Regions from separate parts of the Homo sapiens genome. Here all the other regions are linked to region 4. Evidence: fine-mapped expression QTL. A gene starts in region 4. Each other region holds a variant in brackets. All regions are shown on one strand. Distances are from middle to middle. Region 1 holds the start of LOC107987209 (a long non-coding RNA gene). Region 2 has its middle 15 kb from the start of VESTAR. Region 3 holds the start of LOC124903396 (a long non-coding RNA gene). Region 4 holds the start of AKT1 (AKT serine/threonine kinase 1).

Region 1 (5,774 bases), 31 kb before region 4:
TACTAAGTAGACAGGGACATCAGAATGGCCATTATTAAGAAGGATAGACGAAAACAGGAGCATGTTAAGAAAAGGAATGAAAGACATAAAAATGGCCCAAACAATTTCCAGAGACAAAAATACAATGTCTGAGATGGAAAATACACTGATGAGATTAAAACCAAAATAGACATTGCAGAGCAAAAAATTAGTGGACTTGAAGCCATTGCAATATAAGCTATCCAAAAGGGAACAGAAAAAAAATGAGGAAAATGGCAGAGCCCCTCTGAGTTGTGGGACCACTTCAAGCAGCCTACTGTGCCTTTAACTGGAGACCCATGGACGAGGGGCATAGCAGGGTGGAGACAACTTTTGGAAAAAATAACGGCAGGCCGGGCGTGGTGGCTCACGCCTGTAATCTCAACACTTTGGGAAGCTGATGCTGGCGGATCACCAGAGGTCAGGAGTTTGAGACCAGCCTGGCCAACATGGTGAAACCCTGTCTCTACTAAAAATGCAAAAATTAGCCAGGCGTGGTGGCAGGTGCTTATAATCCCAGCTACTTGGGAGGCTGAGGCAGGAGAATCGCTTGAACCCGGGAGGCGGAGGTTGCAGCAAGCTGAGATTGTGCCATTGCACTCCAGCCTGGGCAACAAGAGCGAAACTCCATCTCTAAATAAATAAATAAATAAAATAATGACTGTAAAATTTCCTAATTTGGTGGAAACATAAAGCCACAGATCCAGGAAGCTCAACAAACCCCAAAAGAAACATGGAGAAAATTACATGAAGCACATCATCATGAAATTCCTCCAAACCAGTGACAAATAAAAAAAAGCAGCCAGAGAAAAAAGACACTTTGTGTTTACAGGAACAAAGAATGGCAGCAAGACTTCTCACTAGAAACTGCAAGCAGACAGTGAACAACACCTGTGGGTTGGGCAAAGAACTTGAATAAACTTATTTATTTATTTTTTTGAGATGGAGTTTCGCTCTTGTTGCCCAGGCTGGAGTGCGGTGGCACGATCTCGCCTCACCACAACCTCCGCCTCCCTGGTTCAAGCAATTCGCCTGCCTCGGCCTCCCAAATAGCTGGGATTTCAGGCATGCGCCTCCATGCCTGCCTAATTTTGTATTTTTAGTGGAGACGGGGTTTCTCTATGTCGGTTAGGCTGGTCTCAAACTCCCAACCTCAGGTGATCTGCCTACCTCAGCCTCCCAAAGTGCTGGGATTTGTAATCCCAAGCCCAGCTTGAATAAACATTTATCCAAATTTAGTTTTGAAAGAAAAGAATGTCAACCTGGAATTCTATACCCAGTGAAAATATCTTTCAAAAGTGAAGGTGAAATAAAGACTTTTCAGACATACAAAGCTGGAAGATTTACAAAAATTGTCAAAAGAAGTTTTTCTGGCAGAAGGAAAATGACACCAGATGGAAACTGCTTGTACACAAAGATATGACGAGCACCTGAAATGGTCACTGTTTGGGAGGACACAAAAGGCAGGGTTTTTTCTGATTTTTAAAAGTGCCTGTTGTCCCAGCTACTCAGGAGATTAAGCTGGGAGAATCACTTGATAGGGGTTCAAAGCCAGCCTGGGCAACATGGCAAGACCCTGTCTTTATTTTATTTTATTTATTATTTTTTTTTTTGACAGTGTCTTGCTCTGTCACCCAGGTTGGAGTGCAGTGGCCTGATCTCGGCTCACTGCAAGCTCTGCCTCCCGGGTTCATGCCATTCTCCTGCCTCAGCCTCCTGAGTAGCTGGGACTACAGGTGCCCGCCACCACGCTCGGTGAATTTTTTGTATTTTTAGTAGAGACGAGGTTTCACCGTGTTAGCCAGGATGGTCTCAATCTCCTGACCTCGTGATCTGCCCACCTCGGCCTCCCAAAGTGCTGGGATTACAGGCATGAGCCACTGCGCCCAGCTGACCCTGTCTTTAAATATGTATATATATAATCTCTTTAAAAGACAATTGCCTAGGCCAGCTGCAGTGGTTCACACCTGTAATTCCAACACTTTGGGAGGCTGAGGCAGGCGAATCACCTGAGGTCAGGAGTTCAAGGTTTGGCCAACATGGCAAAAACCCATCTCTACTAAAAATACAAAAATTAGCCAGGTGTGGTGGCGGCGCACGCCTGTAATCCCAGCTATTGAGGAGGCTGAGGCAGGAGAATCCCTTGAACCCAGGAGGCAGAGGTTGCAGTGACCCGAGATCGCGCCATTGCACTCCAGCCTGGGCAACAGAGCAAGACTATCTTAATTTTAAAAAAGGCCAGGCGTGGTGGCTCATGCCTGTAATCCCAGCACTTTGGGAGGCTGATGCTGGCAGATCACCTGAGGTCAGGAGTTCGAGACCAGCCTGACCAACATGGTAAAACCCTGTCTGTACTAAAAATACAAAAAAAAAAAAATTAGCTGGGCATGGTGGTGGGCGCCTGTAATCCCAGCTACTCAGGAGGCTGAGGCAGGAGAATCGCTTGAACCTCGGAGGCAGAGGTTGCAGTGAGCCTAGATCGCGCCATTGCACTCCAGCCTGGGTGACAGAGCGAGACTCTGTCTCAAAGAAAAAAAAAAATTTTTTTTAATTGTCTATAC[A/G]GATGCTCCTCAGCTTACAATGGGTTACATCCAGATAAATCCATCACGAGTTGAAAATATTGTTAAGGGCCAGGCGCAGTGGCTCATGCCTGTAATCCCAGCACTTTGGGAGGCCGAGGCGGGTGGATCACGAGGTCAGGAGATAGAGACCATCCTGGCTAACACAGTGAAACCCCGTGTCTACTAAAAATACAAAAAATTAGCCGGGCGTGTTGGCAGGCTCCTGTAGTCCCAGCTACTCGGGAGGCTGAGGCAGGAGAATGGCATGAACCCAGGAGGCAGAGCTTGCAGTGAGCCGAGATCGCGCCACTGCACTCCAGCCTGGGTGACAGAGCGAGACTCCGTCTCAAAAAAAAAAAAAAAAAAAAAAAAGAAAATATTGTTAAGGAGCATACTGAATGTGTATAGCTTTTGCAACATTGTAAAGTTGAAAAATTATAAGTTTAACCATTGTAAGTCAGGGACCATCTATACATAAAGAACTCCTAACACGCAGCAATTAAAAAAAAAATCCAAAAATGGGCAAAGGACTTGAGTAAACATTTGTCCAAAGAATATATAAAAACAGCACACACATGAAAAGATGCTCAACATCACTGATTATCAGGGAAATGCAAATCAAAACCACAATGAGATACCACCTCACACCCATCAAGATAGCTACTATTTGAAAATAAAACAAGTGTCGGGGAGGATATGGAGAAATTGGAACATTTGTGCACTGCCGGTGGGAATGTGAAATGGTGCAGCCAGTGCAGAAAACAGTAGGCAGTTCCTCAAAACACTAAACATAAGCCTGGCACAGTGGCTAATGCCTGTAATCCTAGTGGTTTGGAAGGCTGAGACAGGAGGATCACTTGAGCCCAGGAGTTTGAGACCAGCCTGGGCAACATAGTGAGACTATGTCTCAAAAAAATGAAAGGAAAATTAAAACTGAACACAGAATTACTGTTTGATCCAGCAATTCCACTTCTGGGTACAGACACAAAATAATTGACAGCAGGGACGTGAACAGGTATTTGTACACAAGTTTGTAGCAGCATTATCCCCAGTAGCCAAAAGATGGAAACAACCCAAATGTTCATCACAGGACAAATGAATAAACAAAATGTGGTCTATACATGCAATAAAATAGTATTCAGCCTTAAAAAGAAATAAAATTCTGACATGCTACAACACAAATGAACCTTAAAGATACTATGACTGAGTGAAATAAGCCAGACACAAAAAGACAAACACTGCATGATCTCACGTATATGAAATCCCCAGAGGGCTGGGGAGCTACATTCATTCATTTATTCAAAATATATTTATTCTAAATGCAACACAGTATCCTGGATTGTATGTGTATACTGGAATAGAAAAAGAACATCAGTGGGAAAACTGGTAAAATCCAAAAAATAAGCCAATAAAGGAGATAAAATGAGACAATCGGCAATACTTATTTAATACAAAAAAAGGAAAGGAAAGGAGGAACAAAGAACAAATGGAATGTATAGAAAAAGAGCAAGATAGTACATTTAAGCTCAACCATATCAATAGTTGCATTAAATGTAAATGGTCTAGACACCTTAATTAATGGGCAATGATTGTTAGACTTTTTTTTTTAAATAACAACAAAAACCCTACATGCTGTCAGCCCCTTCTGTAGCTCTTTCCCAGACTTGCTAGAAGCAAAAGGATGAAATAATTATCTGTTGTATGATAAAGTCAGCCTTTGAACAGACATTCACTGGAAGTGACATCTTCTGGGAAGGCAGGCCTAGCCCTTATCCTGACATGCCCCAGTAGCACTCTCAGCTCCTGGGACCTCGTCTACAACATTGAGGCCCCCAGACCCAGAGACCTGCAGAGCCTTCAGTTACCCACACCTGCTGAAACATGGGAGGTCTAAGTGCTCAAGTCACTTTTATTATCTTCCTCCCTTCCAGGCCGGCCTTGTGCTGGAAAGAGCATGATGTGGGCATGTGAGAAACAAACTCACCCATCCACACCCGAAGAATGGACTCAGAGACCTCAGAGACCGGAGAACAGCAAAAGTGAGACTTTTAATGATAGTCTTGCAAGATTGGGTGCCTGATGAGCTGGCACACCCAGCACAGTTTCAACAAGCAATTTATCCCCTAGTGTGCAGGTCCCTCCCCCGGTTCTTCATAGGCTGAGTACTATGGGGTCACAACCTTCCTGGACGTCACCTATTGGTTGTTGGGCAGGGGCTTTAGGTGTTTTCTTTAGAGTTGTCTTGCTGCATTCTGTTGCAGCCCACAATGCATTGCAATCCTAGTTAGCTCAGGGGCTCTTCAAATATTTGACTTCTGACCTAAGTAGCTGGGCAGGCTGATACGAACAGACAAAGCGAGCTATTTTGGAGGCTAGTAAACTTTCATTTTAGACTAAACTTTGGTTCAGGTGAGGGAAACTAAGGGACGGGGGCTGGCGGTGACAAACAGGCGTTGGCTATCCAAGCAGGGGCCTAGTATATCCTGTTGCTTCCGTAGTTTGCTGACCTAAGCTGATTTTAGGCACTTTGTCTTGGAAATGGACACTTTATGCATTGTTTCCTTCGGGGTACCTCTGACACAGGAAGGAGAGCTTCCTCTTGGTTGGCGTATTCCTGTTACAACCTCTCCAGACAGCCCTCGCTGTTCGGCAGGCCCTGTTGGGGCTGCAGGATCCTGGCCCTCTCCACCCGCTCTGGCCTCGCTGGCCAGGACTGGACTGCCCCTTGCAAGGGCACCTGCACCTCCTGGAGTTTCCTCTCTGAGATGTGCATCTCCTTGCACATCTCACCCCTCACTGACACCCTCCACCCCACTCCTGGGATGCTGCCTCCTGCTGTAGATGGTTCTGTCTGGGGCTGCTAGGAGGGTCGGGAAATTCTCAGAGGGTCTCCATTTCTGCGTTCATTTTGTTAGGTCCTCAGCCACTTGTAACGGGGACATAACACAGGGTCATGTCTGTATTAATGCCAATGACGTTGAAGCCTCTCTCTCTCTGGACTATAGAACTATCCCTAAGAGGCCAGGTGTGGTGGCTCACACCTTATAATCCCAACGTTTTGGGAGGACAAGGCAGGAGGATCACTTGAGGCCCGGAGTTCAAGACCGGCCTGAACAACATAGCGAGACCCTATCTCTACCATAAAAAAGGTAAGAAATGGCCCTAAGGCAATCCTATATTGTCAGAGGGGGCCGT
Region 2 (5,774 bases), 40 kb after region 4:
TCTCCTGACCTCGTGATCTGCCCGCCTCAGCCTCCCAAAGTGCTGAGATTACAGGCATGAGCCACCGTGCCCAGCCAGTGCATATGTGTTTCTAGTTATTATATCTTCCTTATGGATCACCCTCTTATCATTATAACACATCCTTCTTTGTCTCTAACAATAATTTTTGTCTTAATATCTATATTTTCTAATATTAGTAGAGGAACTCCACCTCTCTTTGAGTTGCTGTTTGAATGTTATATCTTTTCCTGTCATTTTACTTTGTTTTTTGGACGGAGTCTCGCTCTGTCGCCCGGGCTGGAGTGCAGTGGTGCAATCTTGGCTCCCTGCAAGCTCTGCCTCCCAGGTTCACGCCATTCTCCTGCCTCAGCCTCCCGAGTAGCTGGGACTACAGGTGCCCGCCACCACGCCCAGCTAATTTTTGTATTTTTAGTAGAGACGGGGTTTCACCGTGTTAGCCAGGATAGTCTCGATCTCCTGACCTCATGATCCGCCCGCCTCGGCCTCCCAAATTGCTGGTATTACAGGCATGAGCCACCGCGCCCGGCCTCCTGTCATTTTACTTTTAAGATATTGTGTCTGAATCTAAACTGTGTCTCTAGTAGCCATCATGTTTTATACCTAGCAGATATAGTTGGATTATGTTTTTTAAATCTATTCTGCCAATCTTTTTCTTTTAATTAGTGTTTAATATATTAATATTTACTATAATTACCAGTGGTGGGATTGAGGTCTGCCATTGTGCTATTTGTTTTCTCTCTGTCTTGCCTGTTTTGTTCCTCCTCTATTCCTCCATATTGCTTCTTTTGTGTTAAATATATATTCTCTAATGTGCCATTTAATTCTTTTTTTTTTTTTTTTTTTGAGACAGAGTCTCGCTCTGTTGCCCAGGCTGGAGTGCAGTGACACAATCTTGGCTCACTGCAAGCTCCACCTCCCAGGTTCATGCAATTCTTCTGCTTCAGCCTCCCGAGTAGCTGGGACTACAGGTGGGTGCCACCACCCCTGGCTAATTTTTTTTTGTATTTTTAGTAGAGACGGGTTTTCTCCATATTGGTTAGGCTGGTCTCGAACTCCTGACCTCGTGATCCACCTGCCTTGGCCTCCCAAAGTGCTGGGATTACAGGCGTGAGCCACCACGGCCAGCCTCCATTTAATTCTTTTGTCATTTCTTTTGCTATATATATTTTCAAATTTATGTTTTATTGAGGTAAAATTTACATAACATAAATTTTGCCCAGGCGTGGTGGGTCACGCCTGTAATCCCAGCACTTTGGGAGGCCAAGGTGGGCTGATCACCTGAGGTCAGGAGTTCAAGACCAGCCTGGCCAACATGGTGAAACCCCGTCCCTCCTAAAAAATACAAAAAAAATTAGCCAGGCGTGGTGGCGAGCGCCTGTAACCCCAGCTACTTGGGAGATTGAGGCAGGGGGAATTGCTTAAACCCAGGAGGTGGAGGCTGTAGTGAGCTGAGATTGTGCCACTGCACCGTGGCCTGGGCGACAGAGCGAGACTCCATCTCAAAACCAAACAAACAAACAAAAATTTACCACTATAACCGTTTTAAGTGTACAATTTAGTGGCATTAAGTACATCCACAATGTTATGTAATCATCACCACTATTTCCAGAACTTTTTTGTCATCCCAAATTCTGTGCCCATTAAGCAATAAGTCCCTCTCCCTCCCTTCCCTCTAGGCCTGGTAACCTCTATTCTAGTTTCTGTCTCTATAAACTTGCCTATTCCAGATGTGTCATATAAGTGGAATCATATAATATTGGAACTTTAATGTCTGGCTTATTTCACTTAGTAGAATGTTTTCAAATTCTCCCATATTGTAGCATGCCTCAGAACTTCATTCCTTCTTATGGCTGAAGCATATTCCATTTATGTGTTTAGACCACATTTTGTTTATTCTTTTATCTGTTGATGGATACTTGGCTTGTTTCCACATTTGGCTATTGTAAATAATGCGTTATGAACATCGGTGAGCAAGTATCTGTGTGATTCCTCCTTTTCAGTTCTTTTTTTGTTTCTTTGTTTTTTGAGACGGAGTCTTGCTCTGTAGCCCAGGCTGGAGTGCAGTGGCCCCATCTCGGCTCACTGCAAGCTCCGCCTCCCAGGTTCACGCCATTCTCCTGCCTCAGCCTCCCATGTAGCTGGGACTACAGGTGCCCGCCACCACGTCCGGCTAATTTTTTGTATTTTTTAGTAGAGACGGGGTTTCACGTGTTAGCCAGGATGGTCTCGATCTCCTGACCTCGTGATCCGCTCGCCTCGCAAAGTGCTGGGATTACAGGCATGAGCCACTGTGCCCGGCCAAGGGTTTTAATTTCTTACTACCCTTACCAGCATTTGTTATTTTGCTTCTTTTGAAAAAATTATAGCCATCCCAATGGGTGTGACATGGTATTTCATTGTGGTTTTATTTTGCATCTCCCTAGTGACTGATGATGTTGAACATTTTTTGTGTGTGCTTGTTGACCATTTATCTGTCTTCTTTGGGGAAAGGTCCATTCAAGTACTTTGTTTATTTGTAAATTAGGTTGTTTAGGGAGTTTTTGTTTCGGAGTTACAGCAATTCTAATATGCTGCATATTAATATCCTATCAGATATAGGATTTGCAAATATCTCATTTTGTGAGTTGCCATTCTACTCTTTTTTTTTTTTTCAGGCTTAATTCACTTTACTTCTCTTGTATAAAAACCCTATGTTGTAGCCACAGCAGGAGCCTGGGTCCACTGCACGGAGACTCTGGTGTGGGTCTTGACGAGGTGGTCAGTGAATTCCTGATAGGGAGACTTGGTGAATACAGTCTCCTTCCAGAGGTTGGGGGTCAGGTAGCTGTAGGTCTTAGAGATGGCATCAAAGGTGGCCTTGGCGAAGTTGCCCAGGGTGGCAGTGCAGCCCCGG[G/A]CTGAGGTGTAGCAGTCATCGATACCAGCCATCATGAGCAGCTTCTTGGGCACAGGTGCGGAGACGATGCCAGTGCCCCCGTGTGCAGGGATGAGGCGCGCCGGCACAGAGCCGCAGCGGCCTGTCACCTTGCAAGGGACGGTGTGGGGCTTGCCGATCTTGTTCCCCCAGTAGCCTCTGTGCACAGGGACAATGGAGAGCTTGGCCAGGATGATGGCCCCACGGATGGCGGTGGCCACCTCCTTGGAGCACTTAACACCCAGACCGACGTGGCCATTGTAGTCTCCGATAGCAAAGAACGCCTTGAACCTGGTGCGCTGGCCGGCACGGGTCTGCTTCTGCACCAGCATAATCTTCAAAACCTCATCCTTGAGAGAGGCCCCCAGGAAAACGTCAATGATCTCAGATTCCTTAATGGGCAGGGAAAAGAGATAGATCTCCTCCAGGGACTTGATCTTCATCTCCTTGACCAAGCGGCCCAGCTTGGTGACAGGCATCCACTCCTTATCCTCAGCCTTGCCTCCGCGAGCTCCGCAGCCTTGGCCCTGGCCCCGTCCACGGCCGCGACCCCGGCCCCGGATGCCACTGCCGAAACCTCCGCGGAAGGCACCACGGTTCCCCATCCCAGGGCCACCAGGGCCTCCGGCACCCCCCCCCCCCCCCCCTGCACCGGCGTCATCCGCCATTTGGTGTTTTCTCAGACAAGAAGCGCCATTCTACTCTTTTTAAAAATTCTTTTTATTGTTTTTTAAATTTTTTTATTATACTTTAAGTTCCAGGGTACATGTGCACAACGTGCAGGTTTGATACATAGGTATACATGTGCCATGTTGGTGTGCTGCACCCATCAACTCGTCATTTACATTAGGTATTTCTCCTAATGCTATCTATCCCCCTCCAGCCCCCCAACCCCCAACAGGCCCCAGTGTGTGATGTTCCTCGCCTTGTGTTCAAGTGATCTCATTGTTCAATTCCCACCTATGAGTGAGAACATGTGGTGTTTGGTTTTCTGTCCTTGTGATAGTTTGCTGAGAATGATGGTTTCCAGCTTCATTCATGTCCCTGTAAAGGAAATGAACTCATCCTCTTTTATGGCTGCATAGTATTCCATGGTGTATATGTGCCACATTTTCTTAATCCAGTCTATCATTGATGGATATTTGGGTTGGTTCCAAGTCTTTGCTATTGTGAATAGTACCACAATAAACATACGTGTGCATGTGTCTTTATAGTAACATGATTTATAATCCTTTGGGTATATACCCAGTAATGGGATCACTGGGTCAAATGGTATTTCTAGTTCTAGATCCTTGAGGAATCACCACACTGTCTTCCACAATGGTTGAACTAGTTTACACTCCCACCAACAGTGTAAAAGTGTTTCTATTTCTCCACATCCTCTCCAGCACCTGTTGTGTCCTGACTTTTTAATGATCACCATTCTAACTGGTGTGAGATGGTATCTCATTGTGGTTTTGATTTGCATTTCTCTGATGGCCAGTGATGGTGAGCATTTTTTCATGTGTCTGTTGGCTGCATAAATGTCTTCTTTTGAGAAGTGTCTGTTGATATCCTTTGCCCACTTTTTAATGGGGTTATTTGTTTTTTTCTTGTAAATTTGTTTGAGTTCTTTGTAGATTCTGGATATTAGCCCTTTGTCATATGGGTAGATTGCAAAAATTTTCTCCCATTCTGTAGGTTGCCTGTTCACACTGATGGTAGTTTCTTTTGCCATGCAGAAGCTCTTTAGTTTAATTAGATCCCATCTGTCTAGTTTGGCTTTTGTTGCCATTGCTTTTGGTGTTTTAGTCATGAAGTCCTTGCCCATGCCTATGTCCTGAATGGTACTGCCTAGGTGTTCTTCTAGGGTTTTTATGGTTTTAGGTCTAACATTTAAGTCTTTAATCCATCTTGAATTAATTTTTGTGTAAGGTGTAAGGAACGGATCCAGTTTCAGCTTTCTACATATGGCTAGCCAGTTTTCCCAGCACCATTTATTAAATAGGGAATCCTTTCCCCAATGCTTGTTTTTCTCAGGTTTGTCAAAGATCAGATAGTTGTAGATATGCGGCGTTATTTCTGAGGGCTCTGTTCTGTTCCATTGGTCTATATATCTGTTTTGGTACCAGTACCATGCTGTTTTGGTTACTGTAGCCTTGTAGTATAGTTTGAAGTCAGGTAGCGTGATGCCTCCAGCTTTGTTCTTTTTAATTAGGATTGTCTTGGCAATGCAGGCTCTTTTCTGGTTCCATATGAACTTTAAAGTAGTTTTTTCCAATTCTGTAAAGAAAGTCATTGGTAGCTTGATGGGGATGGCATTGAATCTATAAATTACTTTGGGCAATATGGCCATTTTCATGATATTGATTCTTCCTATCCATGAGCATGGAATATTCTTCCATTTGTTTGTGTCCTCTTTTATTTCGTTGAGCAGTGGTTTGTAGTTCTCCTTGAAGAGGTCCTTCACATCCCTTGTAAGTTGGATTCCTAGGTATTTTATTCTCTTTGTAGCAGTTGTGAATGGGAGTTCACTTATGATTTGACTCTCTGTTTGTCTGTTAATGATGTATAGGAATGCTTGTGATTTTTGCACATCGATTTGGTATCCAGAGACTTTGCTGAAGTTGCTTATCAGCTTAAGGAGATTTTGGGCTGAGATGATGGGGTTTTCTAAATATACAATCATGTCATCTGCAAACAGGGACAATTTGACTTCCTCATTTCCTAATTGAATACCCTTTATTTCTTTCTCTTGCCTGATTGCCCTGGCCAGAACTTCCAACACTATGTTGAATAGGAGTGGTAAGACAGGGCATCCTTGTCTTGTGCCGGTTTTCAAAGGGAATGCTTCCAGTTTTTG
Region 3 (5,000 bases), 61 kb before region 4:
TAGCAGGGCGTTCCTGGGCCTGTTGACGTGGGCACTGGGCACTCTGCCATGGTAGGCAGCACTTGGCCTGACTGCCAGGTCATCCCTCGACGCCTGCCCCCCCGCCCAGGCGGGGCTGTGTACAAGGGATAGGCTTCCCTTCTCTCAGTTTCCCTACCTGTCCTCAGAGACCTCACCCCTGACTGCCCCCAAAAGGCAGCAGATGCAGTCGTGGGCATGAAGGTACTCCATGACCCCAGCGGAGAGGAATTACCACATATGTGCCGAGGCAAGGACAGAGTAAGAGTGGGGGTCTCCAGGAGGGTGCTGTGACCCCCAAACCCAGAATCTGTTCGAGTCACGCCAGGGCCTGCCCCGTCCCGATGGACTGAACCTGTGCGCCCAGGGCTGACTCAGCGTCTGCTGAGCAGCACAGGCTGAGAGCCCTGCCCATCCGCCCAGGCTGCAGAAGTACCCTGACCCTCCACCCCCACCCTGCCTTGGCGCCTGGCAGCATTAGCTCCCACAAGGCCTCCAGGTGCCCTCAGACCACCCTCCCTCCTGCCACCAGGCTTCCTGCATCTCTCCACCTCCCAGGATCCCCACCCAGTTCACCCAGCACCGCCCCGCCCAGAGCCACTGTCCTGAACTGGTTTCCTATAAGGACTGGGCCCAGCCAGGCAGGGCCAGGCAGAAGTCAGGGCGTGGAGGTGGGGACTCCTGCCCTGCGAAGGGGCTTCAGGGCTCTGAGTGCTGCCTAATCTGCCAGTGTGTGAAGTTACGTCCCAGGAGGGTGAGCCCCCTGCCTGGCATCTCTGGATCTGCCCCCCCTCTGTCCCCAGGGTTGCCCTGCCACGAGGCGCCGGGGCTGTTTCCGTGTAACTCTTGTCCAGATGCATCGTGAGGAGCTAGTGCAGAGGGAGGGGGCCGCCATCACGGAGGGTCCTGCTTGGGCAGGCGGGGAAAGGCTATGTGAGACACCCCACTGCCAGGCTTGTGAGGGTGGGAGGGGAGCTGAGACCCCTCTGCCGGGCAGAGAGCAGTGGGGTGTGGCTGGGAGAATCCCCCATGCGTAGACAAGTTGAGGGCTTTTCTGCCGGGAGGTGAGGCAGGAAGGTGGGGCTGGATCTGGGCTCTGGGGTCCTGGGGACAGAGTGGGCCCCAAAAGGGAAGTAGTGAAGGAGAGACCAGACCAGTCTGTGGGGCAGGGTATCCGTGTGTGGCCCCCCGCAACCCCACCGGGACCCTGCTTACCCTCCAGGTGGAGCTCAAGGAGAGAGGGCAACAGGAAGGGTCCCCCATGCCATCCAGTGGCTGGCCAGAAGTGGGGCTGGAGACCTGGCCTTCTCTCCTGGGGCAGAGACCTTCTGGGGCTCCCTCCAGGCTCTGTCACACTGGGCCTACAGGGGTCTCTTATGGTGGCATAAAGACCAAAAGGTGCTGTAGGGATATCCCTTGCCGTTGGTGGGGGCCTGGCTTCAGGGGCAATGAGCCATCATGGGCCATCAGAGATGCTGCCTCTTCCTCAGCTGTGAAGCGGGGCCTCCTGCCTGCACGTAGGGGAGCCCTATCAGCCGTGCCTTGGGACTGGAGTGTCCCTGTATCCATCATGCCACCAGCCCACCTGCCCTGCAGGAGCAGAGGGTGGGGGCAGCAGGGGACACCCACTGGACCTGTGCCCTGCTGAGCAGAGCCAAGCAAAAGGCAGGAGGGCTTTGGTTCTTGCCCCACCTGGAGAGGGTCCCTAGCTTATCCTCTAGCTTCCACTGGCACAAGAGGCCCTTGGGGAAGCGAAGGCAGTGGCATCCAGGGCGTGGCACAGTTTGCTTGTATCATGTGGCTGTCTCATGGCAGGAGGGGGATTGGAGCCTGCACATGCTAGTCCCAGGCCCTCTCCCCACCATCAGCAGGAATCCCCCCAGAGAGGGGAGCCTGTGGCTGGGTGTTTCCCAGAACAGGGCTGGCTCAGAATGGCTTTTTCTTTTTCATTCTTAGACGGGAGGTGCCTGCCCAAAGGGAAGGGTTTCTGCTAAAGTGGGTGAGGGCAGGTTTGGCCGTGGGGGTGCTGAATTCATGTTCTGTGGGAGGGTTAGGCCTCCTCATTCCTGCATGAGAGGAGCGAGCTCCAGAGCGGGGCCCGCAGCTGCAGAGACCTGCACCAAGCCACCTGGAGGTGTTGGCACCAGCCTGGGCCAGACCCTCCCCGACCCAGGCCCCTGACCAAACTGCTGCCCTCCTTCCAAGGTGCAGGATGCCCACATCCCAGTCCCGCACAGACGCATCAGAGCTGGCCACCAAACCAGACACCCCAAAATCCAACAGCAGTGCCCTGCAGGGACAGACGAAGCCCCATGTGGGTCAGTCCATGTCCGGGGGGTCCTCAGTACCCAAGTGCCTTCAGCTCAGCCGGGTTTCTGTTCCAGGGGGGCAACAACGCCGGCCACACGGTGGTGGTGGATGGGAAAGAGTACGACTTCCACCTGCTGCCCAGCGGCATCATCAACACCAAGGCCGTGTCCTTCATTGGTGAGTGCCCTGCCCCGACCTGTGTGTGAGCAGGAAAGGGGGTGTCAGCCAGCCCAGGAGCCCCACGCATGGGGGCACGGGGCACCAGAGCCTGGTGATGACTGCTCTAGCAGTAGGCTGGACCCCAGCCTCCACC[T/C]GCCCCACCAGGCACTGGTGCACAGAAACCTGCATAGCCCGGGCCTGGGCTGGGAACGCAGCTGAGAGGACACAGGGCTGATGGGAGGAGGGGCAGAGTCACATCCACCGCGCAGGAGCGGGAGTGCCTGATCCCTGATCCCTGATCCCTGATCCCTCACATGCACATACTTCCTGTGTGGGCATGGAGACCACACGCCCATGTGCCCGTGACTCCATGTGCATACCTGTGAGTGAGTATGTGCTTGCGACAGGCCTGGCTTCTCGCTGCGTGGCGACCAGGCTGTGTGGACAAGGCCGTGCCCTCCCCGGCCCTGCCGAGCCATGTGGCCGTCCTCTTGCCTGGGCTGCTGTGGCCACGTGGCAGGCCTGGTTCCAGCCCCTTCCCAGTCCGTGCTGCAGAGGGACCTCCTTCCACATCGCCTGCCCCCTCCTGGGTCCGGACACAGCTCCTCCCCTGCAGCCACCTGTGACCACTCAGTGCTCCAAGAGGCGAGCCACCTCTGTCCCCAGGGTTCCGTGGCTCTTTCCCTCCTTCTCTCGGTCAGAAGCCTGCTCTGTGCACCCTGGCCTCAGCTCTTAGCCCAAAACCCCCTTGCTCAGAGAAGCTTTTCCTGATCCCAGTGGCCAAGCCAGCCAGGCCCCTTCTTGTACTTTCCCTTCCAGCTGTTTCCAGACTTCAGCAAGGCCATCCTTGTGATGTATCTGACCCCTTCCCAGCCCGTCAGGAAGTGGGGGTCAGGCGCCTCAGGTGTGTGCCCAGCAGATGCATGGGCCTGGACCCATTCAATGTGAGCAGAGGGAGGAAGATAGCGCGGAGGTGGCTGCCGCAGGGGCCATGTGTGGTCAGGGGCTGAGCTGGAGTGACTCACCCAAGACCATCCCCTGGGGTGCAGACCCAGTCCCTGGCCCTCCCAGCAGTGGGGCCAGGACAGTGTGGGGGCGGTCCCTAGTTCACAGCAGGGAGGCCCTAAGCAGTGAGGTGGCCTGCCCGCCATGTCGCAGGAGCCCCTAGCCCTGGCAGACTGGGCAGTAGCGCTGGCTGGCCGCTCCGGGTTGTGCTGCAGGAAGCCCTTCTCCAGCCGCCAGCCTCGTCCTGCCCAGCCCTGGGCCCCACATGGCAGGAAACAAGGCCAAAGAGGCACCGCTTAGCAAGCGGCAGGACGTGCCAGGGCTCACACAGACACCCTGAGCTTGCAACACTCCGGGCCTCTGCCGCGTGTTTATTTCAGGATGCCGTGGCATTTGGGTGACCTTTTGTGCTCACCATGGCTTGCGTCGTCTCCGGGTCACTCTCGTCTGGACTGAAGTCCCGTCTCCCTCAGCTGAGCCTGTGCCATGGCCAGCCTCAGCGGGAACTGGCAAAGGGAAAGGGGTTCCTTGGGGAGGCAGCAGGGGTTTCTGAAGGCTTCATCTTCAAGCAAGGGGTTTAGAGCTCAGGAGTGTATTTGTGTTTTTTTGTTTTTTGTTTATTTTGAGACAGGGTCTGGCTGTGTCACTCAGGCTGGAATGCAATGGCACAGTCCTGGCTCACTGCAGCCTCAACCTACTGGGCCCAGGGGATCCCCCTGCCTCTGTCTCCCAAGTAGCCAGGACTACAGGCTTATGCCACCGCACCTAGCTGATATATATATATATATATATATATATATATATGCATTTTTTTTTTTTTAGAAATGGAGTCTTGCTGTGTTACCCAGGCTGGCCTCCAACTCCTGGCCTCAGGCAATCCTCCTGCCTCAGCATCACAAAATGTTGGGATTATAGGCATGAGCCACCATGCCCCACCAGAGCGGTGCATTTGTGACAATCGATGAACCTACACTGACAGGTCATGATCACCCAGAGTACATAGTCACCTCTGGGTTCACACTTGGTGCTGTACATTCTACCAGTCTGGACAAACGTATGCTGTGTATCTGCCACTATAGTATCGTACAGAATTTTTTACTGTCCTAAAACCCCCGAGCTCCACCCATTTCATTCATCTCTCCCCCCTCAACCCTCGGCAGCCACTCACCTTATGCTGTCTCCTCAGTTTTGCCTTTTCCAGAATCTCAGAGTTGGAATTGTACAGTATGTCGCCTTTTCGGATTGGCTTCTTTCACTCAGTAACATGCATTTAACTTTCCTCTATGTCTTTTCATGGCTTGAAAGCTCATTTCTTTTCAGTGTTGAATAATACTCCACTGTCTGGATGGACCACAGTTGATTTCTCCTTTTGTTTACTGATGGGCCTCTTGACTGCTGCCGAGTTTCGGCGATTATGAATAGAGCTGCACATCTACGCGCAGGTTTCTGCAGGGACATCAATTTCCAGCTCCTTAAATACCGAGGAATGTGTTTTGCATCCATCACCA
Region 4 (5,000 bases):
GACAAGTCCGTCAGTGAGGAGCACCCAGTCCAGGGTGGTTACAGACCCATAATTACAGCAGTCGGGAGGCAGCAAGTAAGTGGGGGAGCACTGGACAGGCCCCCGCCCTGCAGCGGCCCACCAGCCAACCCTCACCTGAGCACACTTTATCCATTGATCCTGCATGGCTTCCTCATTTCCCCTCTGATGGATGAACTCCTAGGCATCCCTCAAAACCCAGTTCCCACATCACCAACTACAGGCATCCCCAGAAAGAGCACTTCGCATGCTCTTCCTGTGAGCAGTCCTCTGCTACCCTTCCAGATGGGCCTTCCTGAGGGGAGGAGGGTCCTCTCTGGGACCTCCAGGCCAGGCAGAGACCCCTGACGACCTCTGTGGAATGGATCCCAACATGGGTCTTTCCACAGCCAGCTTAGACGCTCTCCCCCCAGGCCACCTTTCTGGCCTCCCGAGGCAAGGGCTGGACACCCACAAAGGGTTGCTTTGCACTGATTGTCTTAAGCTACACTTAGAATGGCAGGAAGGCCCACTGCCTTGTGTCTAATGCCAGGACAGGGAAGACCACACCTTACCCAAAGAGGGAAATGCCCCAAGTACTTAGCAGGATGGAAAGCAGGCCAGACTCGAGGAAGGCACCGCAGGACTCCGAGGGCAGGGCTCCGAGCCGCGCACGCCTCAGGCACAGGGGGCTCTGACGACACTGAGTGGGCGTGGCCTGGAGGCAGAGGGCTGGACTCAAAGACCTCTGGATGTCCCCCCACCCCCACACGGGCCTGAGCCCCTCCAAGGCCTGCTGCTGACAGAGTCAGACAGCTGTCCAGAGCCATGTGTAAAAATACATCTGTGCTCACACAGGGTGGTGTACGTCTGCACAGAAACGTATACACCAGGCCAGCACAGGGCTGCCTGTGGGGGCGGAGGGACCCCGACTTCCCACAGCCTCCGTACCTGCCGCCTGCCTTTACCATAAGCACATATTCTTGCTACTATTATTAAGTCACAACTTAAAAAAAAATACTCTGTTTTCGAAAGGGCTCCTCCATCTGCCTCCAGAACCCTGGTGTATGAGAAGTCTACACAGCTCCCGGGAGAGGCAACCGGACCCCCACCAACGGACTCCGTCCGCCCTTCGCTCGGATGAGGGACTCAAAGCAGTCAAGAAGTGGCCACCTGGAGCAAGGCCGAGAGACCCAGGAGTGAATGTGGGGCGGCCTCTGGCTGCAGAGCAGGGGCCCAAGCTCACCCGCTGACCAAGGCAGCACTCAGAGGCCGTCCCGACAGGACCAAGCTCGCTAGCGCCCCAGGATACTCAATCTAAGGGGCAAGCCCCAGCTGCCCTCCAAGCCTTGGCCTCTGGGATGGGCGGGCAGGACCTCCAGGGCCCACCCAAGACAGGAAGCAGTTCCGGGGCCCAGGAGGGTCACAGTCCTTTGTGGCTAGCCTGGGTACCCCGCCACCACGTACAACTTTTCGTCCGTGGGAAACGAAGTCTCCTTCCGGGGCCCTCCCACAAACTTGAAGGCCGGCCGCGGCGAGTCTTTCTCCAACCCCGGGGCACCTCCGCCGGCTGCCTCGCTGGCCCAGCGCCCGGGGAGCCCCACGGCCCGCAGGGGCACCCCGAGCCCCAGCTCCAGGCCCGGCGGCGTCCCTTCTCTCGGGTCCCGGCCTCGCCCGGCGGAGCGGCCTCCCCAAGGTCATGAGGGAGGCTGGGGCCGGCAGCCTGCACCCCCGGCGCCCGGCGTGGGGCCGCCCTCCCTTGGCCGGGCCCGCGCGCCCCGCGCCCTCCCCGCCCAGGCCCGCTCGGCCACTTCCTGCTCCCGCTCCTCCATTCTGGCGGCGCCGCGGCTCGCGCCCCGGCCCGACCGGCCGCGAACAAAGCGGCCCGGCCCGCGGGGAGGAAATCCAGGCCCGGGCGGCCACGGCGGGCGGGGACTCACCGGGCCGCCGCGTCCGGGCGCGAGCGCGGGCCTAGCCGGGCCGCGGCCTCCGGCGCCCGCCGCTCCGCATCCCCGCGGGCCGGCGCTGGGCGGGGCCGGGCTGGAGGCCGCGGCGGGCGGGGGCGCTGCTCGGGGCCGGGCCTCGCGTGCCGCCGCCGCTCGGTGCCCGGTGCCCAGCGCTCGGTGCTCGGCCGCCTGCTCCCGTCTTCGGGCCGCGCTGCGTGCGCTGGGCCAGCCGCCTGCCGCGCTCGGTCCTGCCGCCGCCGCCGGCCCGCCCTCTCCCCGCCCCGCGCCCGCCCCGCGCCCGGAGCCGCCCGCCCACATCCGCCTCCGCCGCCCGGGGCGTCCCCACCGCGCGGCCGGCGGCGAGGGCGGAGCGCGCTCGGGGAGCGCGCGGCCGGGCTGAGGGGCAGCTCCCGACGACCTGGGGCCTGGGCTGGGCCGCTAACGGAGCCCGGCCACCAGCCAGCCCGTCCCGGGGCCACGCCCTCTCTGGCCTCAGTTTCCCCGTCTGTAAAGTGACCCGGCGCTTCTGGGCTCGCTCTGCCGTGACCCTAGCAGAAGGGGCCCGAGACAGGTCAGGGACGAATCCCGGACTTCTGCCTCCGCGCGCGGGGCGGGGGTGGCTTAGGTTGACTTTCAGGCTGCCCCACTCTGGGGGGCGTGGAGGGGGCGGCCAAGAGTGACCTAAAAGGCCCAATCCCAAGACCTTGTGCCTCTGGGGGAAGTGCGGGAGGATGCCAGGACAGGAGGTCAGTTGGAGGTGGGCCTCCAAGGAGCAGGAAGGCTCCGAGGGGAGTCAACCATTCACCTAGGTACTGGCAGCTACACTCACAAAAGGGGGACTTTGCTGGGGAGTGGGAGAAGAGGGGCACACCTTGCCTGGCTCCCACCTTGAGCTGGGAGCAGACACCAGACAGAGGAGGAGCGGTGTCTAGGGTGGGCTGTGACAGCTGACAGCCCAGAGCCCTCCCTGCTGGGTGGACTTGGTCAGCCCGGACACCCAGTCCGAAGTCCACTGGGAGGCAGATGGCCCGGGTATGGAATGAGTAAGTGGGACACAGACCCCTTTCTCCTGGACACTCACAGGAGAGTGCAGGTGACTGCCACCCCGACCCCTTCCTAGCCAGAAGTTCCTCCGACAACTGCCCCTCCCCCATTCCAGAGGCCCACAGTTGATAATAACCCTTTTGTGAAAGACAGACTCTTGTGAGTTACCTTCCTGAGGCTGCTAAGTATTGGGGTTGGGGGAGCATTTTTATTTTCAGCCAGAGTGAGTTCAGCTGGCAGCAGGGGAGGGGGTGGGAGGAGATGCAGACAGAGGCAGCAGGTTCGGCCCAGTGCTCAGGACAGAGTCTGCAGCCAAAACTCGGGCTTCATCCCTGCCTCTTGGGGCTGACCAAGAGAAGGACTCTCTCCCCCTGCATGAGGGCACTCGCTCCTCAGACAGGGGACTCCCCATTCCTGCCTCTCGCCTGAGCACCTCTGCTCCCTCCCAGCTCAGACTTTGTAACCCCAGGAAGGGCCCACCTCCAGGGGGCCAAGTCAGAGGCCCAGTGGTCTGCGCCGCTTGGGTGGGATACCTGACACAAGGGTTGCCCCCAGAGCCTGGGCGTCTGGTGTCTGTCTCTCACCCAGCAAACCTGCACCATGAGCCACCTGGGGCTCCCTCTGGGACTGTCCCACCTGCCCACTGCTCCCCGAGGAAGAGTTCCTGGTATCTGTCCACCATCCTGGGCTCTGCCATGCAAGGATGGAGGAAGGAATTCAGGGAGGAAGCAGAGGGTAAGAGGGCCATGAGACAAGGCCAGCAAGTGGCCGAGGCTTGGGGATGTGGGAGGGAGCAGGGCACCCTCTCATGGAAGAGGCAGTGACATTGCGGGCTGTTCTTGAAGTGGTTGGACCTCTTGCTTATTTTGCACTGGCTGTCTCCAAGGAGGCCTCCCAGTCTTCCCAGCCTGGTGCCCTGGCATCTGCTGGTGCCTGCAACCCACTGTGGGCCCCACACTCCAGTCCTGTCTTCACCTTGGCATGAACTGCCCTCCCCCAAGACGGGGATCTCCCAGTGGGCAGGGCCATCTCCCTCTCCTCCAGCGTCCCAGAGGGAAAGCAGAGTCCTCTCTTCAAGAACACCCCCTCCCACCCCAGACAGAATGGTCAGGAGAGAACCCAGCCCCACGGCTGCTGCTGGGACTGCTGAGGTGCTCTGTGGCCAGATGTTTCCGACAAAAACTGCTGCACCAGGGAAGGGCCCGACGGCTGCCTCCTCCCAGAGCTCAGGGGCCTCCTGCCCTGTCACCTTCTGCAGCTGCTGGCCGGGGGCAGGACTCGAGGGCCCTGGGCTGTGTAGGTCCCAGCAGCAGCTGCAGGGCGGGGCCTCAGGGCAGCTCCCAGGCCAGATGGCCGCCTGAGTCTGCAGAGGTTCTGCCTGAACCACCACCGCCGCGACAGTGGCTGTGTGACGGTGTCCTGTCATTCCTGCACTTGAGACCCAGCCAGTCACAGGGGCTCTGAGGACTACAGGCTGGCCAGGATCCCAGCACCAACTCTGGGCGGTCTCTGCCTGGAACAGCCCCCCTTCCCTGATCGGTGTGGGGCAGGAGGGACTTGAACCCAGACATCCCGACCTGAGAGGGATAAGGAGCTTCTCTCCCACTGTCCCCTCCCCTTCATCTAGCCCATTCCTAGCTGGGCCCTCCTTCCAGGTCCTACCCTAGGCTCCTGAAGGCAGCATCCTGACCCTCCCTGTGTACCACAACCCCCATTAAGTGTCCAGGCTCTCTCTGTCCCGCCAGCCAGGCAGGGCAGGCTAGGGTGCTTGCTCCCAGCCTGCAGTGGGGAGCTGTCAGCCTGTTGCCCAGAGCCCCAGTGTGGCAGGCCACCCCTACTTGCTCTGAAGGTTCAGGGGCTGGGGGTGTGGGCAGGCAGGGCTGGAATGTTGCCACAGAGGAGTCAGGATTAGGGATGGTGGGACCATCGTAATCACTCACAGAAGCAACCGTCACACATTCACTCAACAAACATTTACTGAACACCCACTTGCGTCCTGCCAACTTTTAAGCA

Evidence for each region. PIP is the estimated chance that this variant, and not a neighbour inherited with it, causes the effect. A credible set is the group of variants that fine-mapping cannot tell apart.
Region 1: its variant is the best candidate, but not a certain one, in a credible set for the expression of AKT1 in lung (TOPMed, PIP 0.70).
Region 2: its variant is the best candidate, but not a certain one, in a credible set for the expression of AKT1 in whole blood (INTERVAL, PIP 0.57).
Region 3: its variant is the best candidate, but not a certain one, in a credible set for the expression of AKT1 in nasal epithelium (TOPMed, PIP 0.77).

What each region holds. Positions count from the first base shown.
Region 1 is chr14:104,762,280-104,768,053 of GRCh38, forward strand. LOC107987209 (a long non-coding RNA gene) reads right to left here and starts at 4,670. Exons shown (of 3, transcript XR_001750915.3): 1 at 4,564-4,670. LOC102723342 (a long non-coding RNA gene) reads left to right here and starts at 2,536. Exons shown (of 3, transcript XR_429419.5): 1 at 2,536-4,618; 2 at 5,585-5,728. RefSeq lists an enhancer at 5,268-5,774. The variant A/G (reference allele first, on the strand shown) is at 2,580.
Region 2 is chr14:104,833,285-104,839,058 of GRCh38, forward strand. It overlaps the pseudogene RPS2P4. Among named protein-coding and RNA genes, the nearest start is that of VESTAR, 15 kb to the left of the region's middle. RefSeq lists a silencer at 2,208-2,476. The variant G/A (reference allele first, on the strand shown) is at 2,915.
Region 3 is chr14:104,732,618-104,737,617 of GRCh38, forward strand. It overlaps ADSS1 (adenylosuccinate synthase 1), which reads left to right. Exons shown (of 13, transcript NM_152328.5): 2 at 2,403-2,505. It overlaps LOC124903396 (a long non-coding RNA gene), which reads right to left and starts at 4,897. Exons shown (of 3, transcript XR_007064365.1): 1 at 4,661-4,897; 2 at 3,908-3,998; 3 at 1,951-2,524. The variant T/C (reference allele first, on the strand shown) is at 2,642.
Region 4 is chr14:104,793,547-104,798,546 of GRCh38, forward strand. AKT1 (AKT serine/threonine kinase 1) reads right to left here and starts at 2,202. Exons shown (of 15, transcript NM_001382430.1): 1 at 1,938-2,202. RefSeq lists enhancers at 1-27, 28-667, 668-1,309, 3,351-4,123, 4,124-4,896 and silencers at 1,574-1,893, 1,924-1,973, 2,154-2,513.